3 separate regions of the Homo sapiens genome follow, and regions 1 and 3 are each linked to region 2. Evidence: fine-mapped expression QTL. A gene starts in region 2. Each other region holds a variant in brackets. All regions are shown on one strand. Distances are between the middles of the regions. Region 1 overlaps PSMC1 (proteasome 26S subunit, ATPase 1). Region 2 holds the start of NRDE2 (NRDE-2, necessary for RNA interference, domain containing). Region 3 overlaps NRDE2 (NRDE-2, necessary for RNA interference, domain containing).

Region 1 (4,229 bases), 59 kb after region 2:
CTTTCTGTGTCTAACTCCTCAGAGAAACCTGGCTCCCACTGTCCTGTTTACCTGCCTGACTGCCTCCATACATAAGCAGCCTCCCTCCCCTGCCACCACCCCGTCCCTGCAGATGCCTTCCTCACCCACTTGGGCTCTCATACTGCACATCAGGCTGCCCACACTGACTCCCCCTATCGGACCACCCCAGCCCTGCACATACACCCCACACGGATGCCAGCCTCACCCTGCCCATGCTGAGTCCCCGTGCTGTGGTGTTCCTCCACATGGACAGCTCCACACCCTACTTGGGCTGACACCCGCCCTCCCCACAAGCACCCCGTCCTTACCCTGCACTGGGCCACCCCCACGTGTGGATGTCCTCTGTGGTAGGCAGAGTGGCGCCCCTAAAGATGGCCACACCCTAAGCCCTGGAACGTGTGAATGTTACATGGCAAAAGGAACTTTGCAGATAAAAATTAAGAAGATTGTAAACTTTAAAACAGGGAAATTATCCTGGATCATCTGCATGGGTCCAATGCAATCACAAGGATCCATAAGAATAGAAAAGGCAGGCAGAAAGAAGGGTCGGTGGGAGAGAGGGACTGGGCCTGCTGCTGCTGGTGGAAAATGAAGTGCCACGAGTCAGGAGGGAGGGTGGCCTTCACAGACTGGCAAAGGCCTCAGCTGGCAGCCAGCAAGGAAATGCTGACCTCAGCTGGCCCACAACTCCAAGAAATTAAATTCTGCCAACAATAATCCTCAGCAAGGAAACGGATTCTCCCTTAGAGACGCCAGAGGGAACGGTCCTGCCAACAGCAAGACTTTAGCCTGGAGACACTCGTGTTGGACTTCTGACCTACAGAACTGAGATAAAATTGTGGTTTTTATTTATTTATTTATTTATTTTTGAGACGGAGTCTTGCTCTGTCGCCCAGGCTGGAGTGCAGTGACGGGATCTTGGCTCACTGCAACCTCCGCCTCCTGGGTTCAAGCGATTGTCCTGCCTCAGCCTCCTGAGTAGCTGGGACTACAGGCACCTGCCACCACGCACAGCTAATTTTTGTATTTTTAGTAAAGATGGGGTTTCACCATGTTGGCCAGGCTGGCCTCAAACTTCTGACCTTGTGATCCGCCTGCCTCAGCTTCCCAAAGTGCTGGGATTACAGGCGTGAGCCACCGTGCCTGGCCAAATTGTGCTGTTTTTAAACAAAGCCTGTGGTAACTTGTTATAGTATTAACAGAAAACTAATACACACTCCTCATTCAGTGTGGGCCCTACAACCCACACCAGGCCACCTGTCAAGGGAACGCTTACCTTGATCTGTCCCACTTAATAGCTTTAGGCCTGATTTGTTCAGAAAGAGAAATGACGGAAATAGACGGAGAAAGGGAAGGGGAAGTTCTGACATGTTTCTGAACACCTTGAAAGGGATGAGATTTCTGAGCCCAAGGGCTCAGAAGGGCTTTCAAGATATCTCTAGGAATCCTCAGTCTCTTGGGAACACCAGTAGTTATTTTCTGCCCTCAGAGTGCTAAGAACATGCATGGTCCACAAAACTTCCAAAAAGGAAAGCTGTACTTCCTTTGGAAGCAATAGCCACATTAACGCAGCCTTTATTATTTAAACAACGAATATCCCTGGCTCTGTGGTAGTGACCATTTCCCACTGTAATTACCGTTGAACGCCAGCTCTGGGGGTGTGATGTGGCGAACGCATAGTGAGGTCCACACTCCTTGGGACCGCAGCCTGAGTTCCTGTCCAAAGGCTTCCCTGTAGCTGGGTCCACCCACAGGCTGCTGTTGAGCGGTAGGTGTGTGTGGAGACTGCAGAAACAGGAAGTGTTTGTGAAAGAGCACGCTTTATTGGGAAGCAGACTGCTGCACAGTGACCAACAGGCCACCCAATGGGCACTTACACATCGTACTCCAAAAGACACAGGATGTTTTGCTAATAAAAATCAGTGGGAACAGGGATTCCTCTGGGCAACTCCCCCAACCTCATCCCTTTCAGGGATTGAGAAATCTCCCAACCATTTTCCTGATGACAGCCATGGTTCATTAGAGATACAGCCCCTCAGGGGTGCCTTCCTGTTTCTTATAAAGAACATTTTCTTTAGATTTTTTGAAGTCTTCATTTGTTACTTTCATTCTACGTTCTCTTAAGGCCATCAGACCAGCTTCTGTACAGATTGCCTGTAAGAAAGAAGAGTGTGTTCAGAAAGTGACATACTCATTTTTATTC[T/C]AACAAGGAATTCCAAAAAACCTATTCTGAGGCCAGGCGCGGTGGCTCACACCTGTAATCCCAGCACTCTGGGAGGCCGAGGCAGGTGGATCGCCTAAGGTCAGGAGTTCAAGACCAGCCTGGCCAACACGGTGAAACCCCATCTCTACTAAAAATACAAAAAGTTAGCCAGGGACGGTGGCAGGCACCTGTAATCCTAGCTACTCGGGAGGCTGAGGCAGGAGAATTGCTTGAACCCGGGAGGCAGAGGTTACAGTGAGCCGAGATCGCGCCACTGCACTCTAGCCTGAGCAACGAGCGAAACTCTACCTCAAAAAAAAAAAAAAAAAAATCTGTTCTGAAATAAAGCATGAGACACCTAGACTAAACACAAATTGCTTATTTGGGAAAGATTTGATTTTTAAAAAAAATGTTTTAAGCATCCTATTTTCTGAAAGGATGTGAAGTGGCTTAAACTGGGAGTTACTGTAACTAAGACTGACCCAAGGGTCAGGGCTGTGGGTTCTAGTTTTGGCTCAGGTTCTAACAAGCTATGTGGCTTGTACAACACCACTTTTGTTAAAGAGAATAATATTCCTAGGAAATAAACAAAATTATGCCCTGAAACTTAGAGGCAATTGACAGTATATGTCTATTTCATTTACTTATAGTCATAAAAGAACATGTATTCTGGTTAGATACTGTAAGTGGCAGTATCTATACTATGGAATAATACTACAGAGTATAGCATTTATTCCAATATATTTAATTTCTCAGTAATTACTGGCCCAAAGTAAAAGAAAACAATAACCCATGTTACATGGGTTACTGTTATTGTTTTAGGCCTGATCTGTTTAGAAAGGAAAGAGAAATGAAGGAAATAGATAGAGAAGGACAGCAAACAAACATATTATGTGGGTTACTGTTATTGTTTTCTTTTTCTTTTGGCCAGTAATTACTGTGGCAAAAACAAGATGTGGCAAAAAACACAATCCTGGCACAGAAGTTTGTTTGGTGATGGCCATCAGGTTATTTACTTCAAATGGTTCGGGTGAAAAGAAAGTTTTGTGTATAGAAAGAGAAAAAGCAAACAGGTAAAATGTTAACTCTTGGCAAATCACTGTGCTATTGTTGCAACTTTTTTGAAGGCTTGAAAATTGTCAAAGTAAGTTCTTATCTTAAAATTTTAAGATCTTTCAATTTTTAAAAAAGAAGATAGATTTTACTTGCCAACAGAGACATCTAGTTCTCTAGGACTAACTGCCAATGATCCGTGGGCTCAGGGCAGGTGCTGGCCTGGAAAGGCACTGCTTGTGCTGTCCCTACCTAACCATGGCATTTATGCCCAACGAAAACCCAGCTCTTTCCAGGAAAAGCAGGTAGAACCCATATTCAACGCTGCCAGACCTTGCTGTAAATTCTGGTCAGCTGGGAGGAAATGTCCTAACTCATGTACATTTGTCATAAAACCAAGAAGTATAATCTGGTACAACCTTCCAGAACACAGATTGGGAGATGAATGCAGCGGGTGCTTGGTCCCCACTCTGCGGCTCTGGGGAGAGTTCTCCCAGGACATACCCTTCCCCTGACCTGGGACTGAGCAGCTACATTTGACACACCTTGAGAAAGTCACCTGGGCCTAAGGCTTAGTACCAGCGACTCAGCCTTGTGGCTCCAGGTGATTTAGCGTCATTCACTGCATAAAATGATGCATTAAGAATGACTTCAATATCAAGCACATATACCATTTGGATGTAATCGTAAACCAATATGATGATTAAAATACAGACACCCACCTGTCCAGGCCAACCACCATCCCAAGAGCACATATAGACTCTTTCCTGATTGACGGCCACATTCCCAGAAATAAGCTGACACGGCTAGGCTCTCACCTTGATGTCAGCACCAGAGAGGTCATCTTTAGCCATGATCAGGTCGTCCAGGGTTACATCATCAGCCAGCGTCATCCTGCTTGTGTGAATCTGAAAGATGCGCTTCTTCGTCTTTTCATCAGGCAGGGGGAACT
Region 2 (4,207 bases):
CTGAGATTTAAAGTTGAAGACATACAGGAATTACTGCCCCTATTGTCATACTAAGCTCCTTTTTGTAAGTACTCTGCCAGGGACTTCAAAGCATTAAGGGTGTCTATTTTGGACTCATAGAACCTAATTCTTATGCAGGTCTGCAGACTTCATCAGAGTCCATCCATTCCTTGATTAGATGATTACATTTGCATCTCTGGTTTATAATGTATTTCCTAACTAAAGATCTTTAACTCCCTAGGATCCCAATAAATATATCTTCATTTACCTATCTATTTTCACTTGCAAATATTTCAGTATATATCTCTAATATATAAGAACTTTAAAAAGTAATCTCAGGCTGGGTTGGGGGGTGCTCAGGCACAGGCACCCAGCACTTTGGGAGGCAGAGGGGGGCAGATCGCTTGAGCCCAGGAGTTCGAGACCAGCCTGGGCAACATGGTGAAACCCTGTCTCTATTAAAAAAAAAAAAATTAAGCCAGACATGGTGGTGTATGCCTGTGGTTCCAGCCACTTGGGAGGCTGAGGTGAGGGGATTGCTTGAATCGAGGAGTTCGAAGCTGCAGTGAGCAGAGATCGTACCACTACACTCCAGCCTGGGTGGCAGAAGGAGACCTTGTCTCAAAATAAATAAATAAGGGTCACCTCAGTGACATAAGTACTTTAGTACATCTAACAGAATTCACAAGAATTACTTGTGAATTGCTTGTACTCTGCCTACCTTCTTATTTCTCCATCTATCTTAAAAAGGTCTTTTTACAGTTTGTCCAATCAGAATTATAATGAGGCCACAAATATGTTGTATTTGCTTGATGTGTCTGTAAGATCTTCGTATCTATTACAATCTCCTGCCCTCTTAAAGCCCTTGATATGTTAAGGAAGCACGGTTGTTTTCTATAATTTCCCATATTCTAGATTTGGCTAATTGTTTCTTGGTAGTACAAAGTCTTCTAAGTTGTTCCTTTACTCTCTATATTTCTGGTAGCAAGTGTGATTAGATTTTGGGTGGGAGGAACCGGGGTCAAGAATGCTTCACAGACAGGTATTTCCTAACTATCAAAGACCCTTGAACTTGATGGGACTTTCCATTTTTCCTTGTTCTGGGGTATTTAATATGGTAACCTGATTGAAGTTCGGATATCTCACATGACTTTGAGCCGAACTTGCAGTCGTAATTCACATAATAGCTAACACATATTAAGTGCTTTTCATGGGCCGGACTCAATGCTAGGCCCTTTATAAATATGTTCATTTAATCTTCTCAATATTTTGCAGATAAGGAAAGTAATGCTTAGAGCGTTTAAGTTGACCCAGTTAGCAAGGATGGTGTGAATTTAGGGGTCGAACTGGAATCCCAATTTCCTTAGTCCCTTTCGCGGTCAACAATTCCCTTCTCCGGTTTTCGCAGTTCCGGTTCTCACAGGGTCCCAACCACTAGGAACCCGTCACTCCTCGCTCCGCCCCCCTTGGCCCCGCCCCACCCTGCTTTGCCCTGCCTCTCCCTGCCCCGCCGCGCCCCAGTCCCTTGACGACCCTCCTCTCTGGGCCCCGCCCCTCCCGCTTCGGGGTCAAGCCCCAGAGAGCGCCGCGAAAACCACATTTCCCAGAGTGCACCGCGACGGCAGGGGTCCTCAGACCGGCGCTCGCTCGCCGGCGCCATCCCTATAGAGAAGAACGGAGGTACGGCCTGTGGTCATGGCGCTGTTCCCAGCCTTTGCGGGGCTTAGTGAGGCTCCCGATGGCGGGAGCTCCAGGAAAGGTAAGCACACAAACGAGCCGAAGAAGGCACCTGGGGGGCTTAAGAGGCTGTTTCTCGGGCCCAGGTCTAGACTTTTGCTTTGGATTTGTGTATCCATTTGTATCCCAGAGTTCTCCGCGGCGCTGCAAAGCCTTCTGGGAAAGGCTCAATCCCTCCGAGGTCTGGGGCCCAGAGGCCTGTTCTGGACCAAGGTTGTAGAGTTATGGAGGGGTGGAGAAAGACCAGCAGATGCCCTGGAGCTGGGACTTCTGTACGATGTTGTTAGGTCCTGTTCTTCTTTTCGAGCCTCAGTTACTTCATCTTTAAATTGGGAATAATGATACTCGACATCTCGAGGAAACCCTTGATGCAAATGCAGAATGTTTTTATTACATATTACTTCCTTTCCTGTTATACTTATTTCTGAAATGCTTATTAGATTGGTATTACTTAGCGGCCTAGAGCTAGGGGATTAGTATCCAAAACCTAATCAGTTTCTCTCTGGAGGGGCACAGCACCCAGTGAAAATAACTAACATTTATTCTTGAGGGCCTAGTGTGTATCAGGTTATGGCTTTACACATTTTACTTAAGTCCCAGACATTTCCAGCAGAGCTGCATTGTTCAAAATTGGGGTACATAGTTCATTTAAGAAGTAATTAATCCTGGCCAGGAGCAGTGGCCCACACCTGTAGGTGGAAGGATAGTTTGAGCCCGGGAGTTCATGACCATCATGATCAACATAGCGAGACTCCTGTCTCTTAAAAAAAAAGCCAGGCGTGGTGGTGCACACCTATAGTATCAGCTCCTCAGGAGGCTGAGGTAGGAGGATTGCTTGAGCCCAGAAGTTTGAGGCCGCAGTGAGCCATGATCGTGCCGCTGCATCCTGCCCTGGGGTGGGGGGACCTTGTCTCTAAAAAAAAAAGAAAAAAAAGTAATTCTAAATTATGTGCCATATGTGACAGGGCGCAATTGAGTCTTACCTGTCTGTTATATCCTCTAATATAGTTCCTACACTTTCTGTAACGTTTCTCCTAATTTTTTTTTTTTTTTTTGAGACAGGGTCTCACTCTGTTGCCCAGGCTGGAGTACAGTGGCACTGTCATAACTCACTGCCGCCTCAGACTCCTGGGCTTAACTTCCTGCCTCAGCCTCATGAATAGCTGGAACTACTGGTGTGCACCACCAGGCCTGGCTAATTTTTTTTAATATTTAGTAGAGACGAGGTCTCACTGTGTTGACCAGGCTGGTCTCGAACTCCTGAGCTCAAGCGATTCTCTATCTGAGCCTCCCAAAGTTCTAGGATTACAGGCATGAGCCACTGCGCTTGTCCTATTTCTCATAATTGTGAGTAATTTCTTGTGTAAAATTGTTGTCTTCCCTTACTAGACTGTAATCTCTATCAGGTTGGGCAGTGTTTGTCTATTCATTGTAGCATAGTTAGCCCCTAGCACAGGTCCAAAGTATAATAGGTGTTCAATAAATATTTTCTGGATGTACAGATCGATAGTAGTTACTTAATAATTACGTGTTGCAGGAATGCATGAGTGCACCTAAAAGAAGTGTATAGTACAAGGTGGGATATTACAGATACCATAGGTGAACTGCAGGATTAATTACTTCTTTTTATTTATTTATTTATTTATTTTTTTTTTTGAGACCAAGTCTTGCTCTGTCGCCCAAGCTGGAGTGTAATTGTACGATCTTGGCTCACTGCAGCCTTCGCCTCCTGGGTTCAAGTGATTCTCCTGCCTCAGCCTCCCGAGTAGCTGGGACTACAGGCACTCACCACCATGCCCGGCTAATTTTTGTATTGTTAGTAGAGATGGGGTTTCACTGTTTTGGCCAGGCTGGTCTCGAACTCCTAACTTTAAGTGATTCGCCCACCATAGCCTCCCAAAGTGCTGGGATTACAGTTGTGAGCCACCACACCCAGCCCAGGAATAATTACTTCTAATAGAAGGTTCAAAGAAGGCTTTATGTAGGAACTAATATTTTTTTCTTTTACTTTTTTTTTTTTTTTTTTTGAGGCAGTCTCACTCTGTCACCCAGGCTGGAGTGCAGTGGCACAATCTCAGCTCACTGCAACCTCCGCCTCCTGGCTTCAAGTGATTCTTGTGCCTCAGTCTCCCGAGTAGCTTGGATTACAGGCATGCACCACCACACCTGGCTAATTTTTTGTATTTTTAGTAGAAATGGGGTTTCACCATGTTGGCCAGGCTGGTCTTGAACTCCTGAGCTTAGATAATCCGCCCACCTCGGCCTCCCAAAGTGCTGGGATTACAGGTGTGAGCCAACGTACCCAGCCTACTTTTTTTTTTCTTAAGTAGGGACAGGGTCTTGCTATGTTGCCCAGGCTGATCTCAGACTGCTGGGCTCAAGTGATCCTCCTGCCTCAGCCTCCCAAAGTTCTGGAATTACAGGCGTGAGCCACTGTGCCTAGCCAGGAGCTAAGTTTTGGATGGATCTT
Region 3 (4,229 bases), 52 kb after region 2:
AAAAATTGTATAAGCTAACAGTTGCTCACATTTGTTTATAAGGAGATAAAAAAAGAGAATCAAAATTTGCAAAAGCCTTAAGACCTTCAGCTTCCTCGTTTTTTAGAGATGTTGCTTCCCCCATGGGGAGGTGGCACACGTCTGCTAAGAAGGTAGACAAATGCCAAAACAAGTGATTACAAAGCACCAAATAGCTTCTCTACACGGAGGACTCAAACACTTGGGACGTTAGTGATGCAGCCAATGGGCAGCTGCCTGCCACTGTTACTCGCCTCCCCCGTGGTCGCACAGGGGAGAATTATTATGGCCCAGCTCAGGTCTGAGTCATAAGCATTTTTTGTTTTTTTGAGACAGAGTCTTGCTCTGTCATGCAGGCTGGAATGCAGTGGCGCAGTCTCAGCTCACTGCAGCCTCAACCTCCTGAGCTCAAGCATTCCCCACACCTTAGCTGGGACCACAGGTGCGCACCACTGTGCTGGGCTAATTTTTATATTTTTGTAGAGACAGCGTTTTGCCATGTTGCCCAGGCTGGTCTCGAACTACTGAGCTCAAGCAGTCTGCCCTCTTTAGCCTCCCAAAGTGCTGGGATTACAGGCGTGAGCCACCGTGTCCGGCCAGCATCTTGTTGGCTGAGTTCTTCAGATGGTTTGTATGAGATTCGGTTCCTGGGGCTTCGTGTGAGGGAAGTGGCCTCTGTGTGAAGTCTCCATTCCTGCTTCCCTCTGGGAGACTGCCCTTGGCCGAATCACACACTCACTCGGGCACCCATCACGGCAGTTCTGCTCCTCCATTAGCTGTTTTCTTAGGTTCCCAGCAAAGACCCTGTTGGTTACCTGAGATGCTCCCAGTCCACCTGAGGAGACGTTTACCTGGACACAATCCCATAGGGTGCAGACACAGTACCATGGGAACTCCAGCAAAGAAGAGTTGCCCCCTGTTATGTTTCAGTCCTGACTTAGGAATTTCATGAGGGGTCTCAGTTGTCAGTTCAGAAGATGAGAAAGGAGGACCAGGAGAGCCAGATAGCGCCCATGAACTCTTCCCTCCCTCGAGACTGCGCCAGTCAGAGGTCAAAGGTACACGCAGGCCACGTCTCAGAAGATGAAATCATGGACGGAAGCCACACGTGGTCCCCACCAAGCTTTCACCTGGCATCCAGCCCTTCCATACCTCCGTGCAGTGAGGGCATCTCCAGCGCTGATGGAGGCTGGCCAGCTGTGTACCTGGATTTGTTGGGTTCCGAGATTAGCTGTGCATGGTTGTTACATTTTGTCAGTATCTTAGGAAAGGACACTGAAGTATGTTAGCATGGGAAGGAAGGACAGCGCTCAGTGGCTCTTTGGTTATAAATTCAGAGGCTCAGCCTCAGAACTGGAGGCTTCCACCAGGGAGGACACGCAGGAGTCCTCCGAGCCTCACAGCTGGCCCTGTGCGTGGCACTCACAGAGGCTGGGGAAAGACTGGGCCTTGCCTGAAGCAAGGTTATCACAGTTCCGTCCCTGTGACTGTGGGAGTTAACGGTTGAGAAGGACTGGCCATGGAGTCCCGGCTACTTGGGAGACTGAGGTGGGAGGACTGCTTGAGCCCAGAAGTTCAAGGCCAGCCTGGGCAACATAGACAGTGAAAAAAAAAACCAAAAAAACCAAACAAAAAACAAATAGAAAAGGGAGTGAGGCCATCCTTGGTAGATGGAGTTCCTGAGATGTAAATTGGAGAGTGGAGTCCCTGGATGCCACTGTTCAGGTTTCTGGGAAGCCGGTCAGCAGCCCTCACTGGTCCCGGGCTGGATGCTGTGCCCCGGCCGCTTGGTTGGGCAGGGCTGGCGTCCCCTAGAACCTTCTGAGGGAGGGGAGCCTGCAGGACGGGGTGGGTGGAAACAGAGACTTCAGCTCCACAAGCCCTGCCTGTGCCCACTCCTGGCTGCACAGCTACCTGTGGAGCTGCCCGTGTGGGCTGTGATTCCTTGGAGGGCTTGAGAGGGGCTGTTGTCAGCGGAGGTCCCAGGCTGGGTCTCCTTCCACACTGGGCTGGGAAGGAGGCTGTGTGGCTGAGTCGAGA[T/C]GGAGGGTTTTATATCTAGAGAGAACACGTGCTGAATATCCACACAGATACTGAGATTGCCGATGGAACTTGCACCTTTTGTAAGGTCAGTGATCACAGTCCTGGCCATCTCTTTTCTCTAAAAGATAGTTTTCAGAAAATGGCAAGTATTAAAGCAAGTGTCTTCTCTATGTTTTCTAAGATAAGTATTGTAGAAGATTTTCTCTATTTGTATAATGTCTTCAGCCTCACCTCACTGACACTCCTTGGTTTCAAGCACTGTTACTAACACCCAGAGGTGACAGCCTACAGCAAAGGAGGAGATCTGAGACTTTAAAAAGTCAGTAGTGTTCAGGATTGACACTCTGGGGCCATTTGAATGGGAGGAAACAACCCCAACACAGCAGTGGCTTCTGAGAGTGCTCCCTGGCACCTGCCCCTGTCCCACAGCCACCGTGACGGTGCCAGGCCCTCTGCACAGGTGGGCTCACTGCAGCTGAGGGCTTGTGCCCGTCATCCAGGGGCGTTTGTGTAGCCTTAGCCTCTCTGTGTCAACTAATCATGTTTGTATTTTCTCCCCCTCACCTCAGGTTTCCTTAGGAAATAAAGAAAGAAGCAAAGGTGTATTCTACAAAGCACTTCAGAATTGCCCTTGGGCAAAGGTAAGTGTTAAAGGCCATGGTGTCTTCAGCTTCCCGAAAACTTCCCGCCAGGTCTCCGTCCAGCTAGTGTCTTCCCGGCCTGCCCCGCGGCACCGGGGATGCTCGGCTCATGGACGCCATACCCTGTCCCAAGGTACATCCAGAGCCTTTTCCTGGTGAAACTGTCCCCTGTGGAGTCAGAGCCTGGCCCTACCTGGGGCTGGTGCTTCATGGAAGTGTTGCCGTGGGTAGCTGGTTTCCCAGCATTTGGTCAGAGTCCAGCCCAGATGCTGAAAGAGTTGGGATCATGTCCCAGCCTGGCTGTGAGAGCCCAGGTCAGGTGACACTCAGAAGTGAAACTGAGGGCGACGGCCAGCAATTCCTGGACCCCTTTTAAAAGAGAAGGCCTCGCTTGGCGTTTGCTCACTTTTGCGAGTTCAGTGTCCTTCCTGAACATGCCCAGTGCTGCCCGAGTTAAGAAAGTCTCAGCCAAGGGGAGCAGGGGCCGTGGAGGGCGACAGGAGGGCAGGGTCACCAGGAACCTGGCCCTTGCTTCCTGAGCTCCTCCAGGCTGACAGGAAGTGGCGGCTGAGTGGGGCGGCCTTCCTGCCTGCCCCCTAGGTGTTGTACCTGGACGCCGTGGAGTATTTCCCCGATGAGATGCAGGAGATCCTGGACCTGATGACTGAGAAGGAGCTCCGGGTGCGCCTGCCGCTGGAGGAGCTGGAGCTGCTGCTGGAGGATTAGAGAGCAGCGGGAAAACGGGCTGTGCCTGCGAGGCCAAGTTGCCCACCCTGCGGAGCTAGGAGGCGCGAGCAGAGAACGTGTGTGTTAGGAGAACTCGGCTTTTGAAATGTTCTTTCTCGATAGTAATAATGTGGGCTGCCAGCCTCTCACATCTTGCACACTTTTTGGGTGTGTAAATGACACAAAAGTTATTTACATATTATATATGTGAATATGTGTATATATGTACATAGCCAGAGAGTCATGCCACGTGGTCATTAAACCGATGATGATTGAGGCGTGGCAGCGTCCTTGCTCATTCTCTCCCTGTGCGCAGCCAGCACTGGCCCCCGCACGGTGAATGTGTTCCCTCCGCTGGTGTCGTGGTGGTCCTGCCAGGCCCTCTCTGAGATAAAGGTCTGGTTTTTCAGCACTAGGATGTCTTCCCCAGGCTGGTGAGCAGGAGATTTTGCTCTTGTGTTGAGACCCGCAGTTAACGCTTGGTGTTCTGGCCTGCACGCAGTGTGTGGCAAGTTCCCTGAGTTTACCTCGGCGGCGATGCCTCCGCCTGGAGCTGGAGGGGCAGCGTGCCCTGGGGCTGCTGAAAAACTCAGGCCTGTGGAGTCAGAACCCGCTCTTCAGCAGGTCCCAGGCCACTTGAGTGTGGAAGGCTGCCCGGGGCACTGGCAGCCTCTGGGGGAAGCCTGCTCCCAAGCCGTCTAGGAGCCGAGCACGCTGTACCGCCAGCCCCAGCCCTGCCTGCATGAGGGGCCCGGCACGCTTGTGCAGCAACGCTGCTTACACTATGAAGGCCAAGGCTGGCCT

The links. PIP is the estimated chance that this variant, and not a neighbour inherited with it, causes the effect. A credible set is the group of variants that fine-mapping cannot tell apart.
Region 1: its variant is the best candidate, but not a certain one, in a credible set for the expression of NRDE2 in whole blood (TOPMed, PIP 0.60).
Region 3: its variant is the best candidate, but not a certain one, in a credible set for the expression of NRDE2 in whole blood (TOPMed, PIP 0.59).

Annotation. Positions count from the first base shown.
Region 1 is chr14:90,270,219-90,274,447 of GRCh38, reverse strand. PSMC1 (proteasome 26S subunit, ATPase 1) reads right to left here. Exons shown (of 11, transcript NM_002802.3): 10 at 4,096-4,229; 11 at 1-2,175. The coding sequence ends at 2,041. NRDE2 (NRDE-2, necessary for RNA interference, domain containing) reads left to right here. Exons shown (of 14, transcript NM_017970.4): 14 at 1-4,229. Among named protein-coding and RNA genes, the nearest start is that of PSMC1, 16 kb to the right of the region's middle. The variant T/C (reference allele first, on the strand shown) is at 2,225.
Region 2 is chr14:90,329,393-90,333,599 of GRCh38, reverse strand. NRDE2 (NRDE-2, necessary for RNA interference, domain containing) reads left to right here and starts at 1,659. Exons shown (of 14, transcript NM_017970.4): 1 at 1,659-1,759. The coding sequence starts at 1,696. RefSeq lists a silencer at 1,426-1,575 and an enhancer at 1,726-1,905.
Region 3 is chr14:90,277,532-90,281,760 of GRCh38, reverse strand. NRDE2 (NRDE-2, necessary for RNA interference, domain containing) reads left to right here. Exons shown (of 14, transcript NM_017970.4): 13 at 2,628-2,699; 14 at 3,300-4,229. The coding sequence ends at 3,425. Among named protein-coding and RNA genes, the nearest start is that of PSMC1, 23 kb to the right of the region's middle. The variant T/C (reference allele first, on the strand shown) is at 2,059.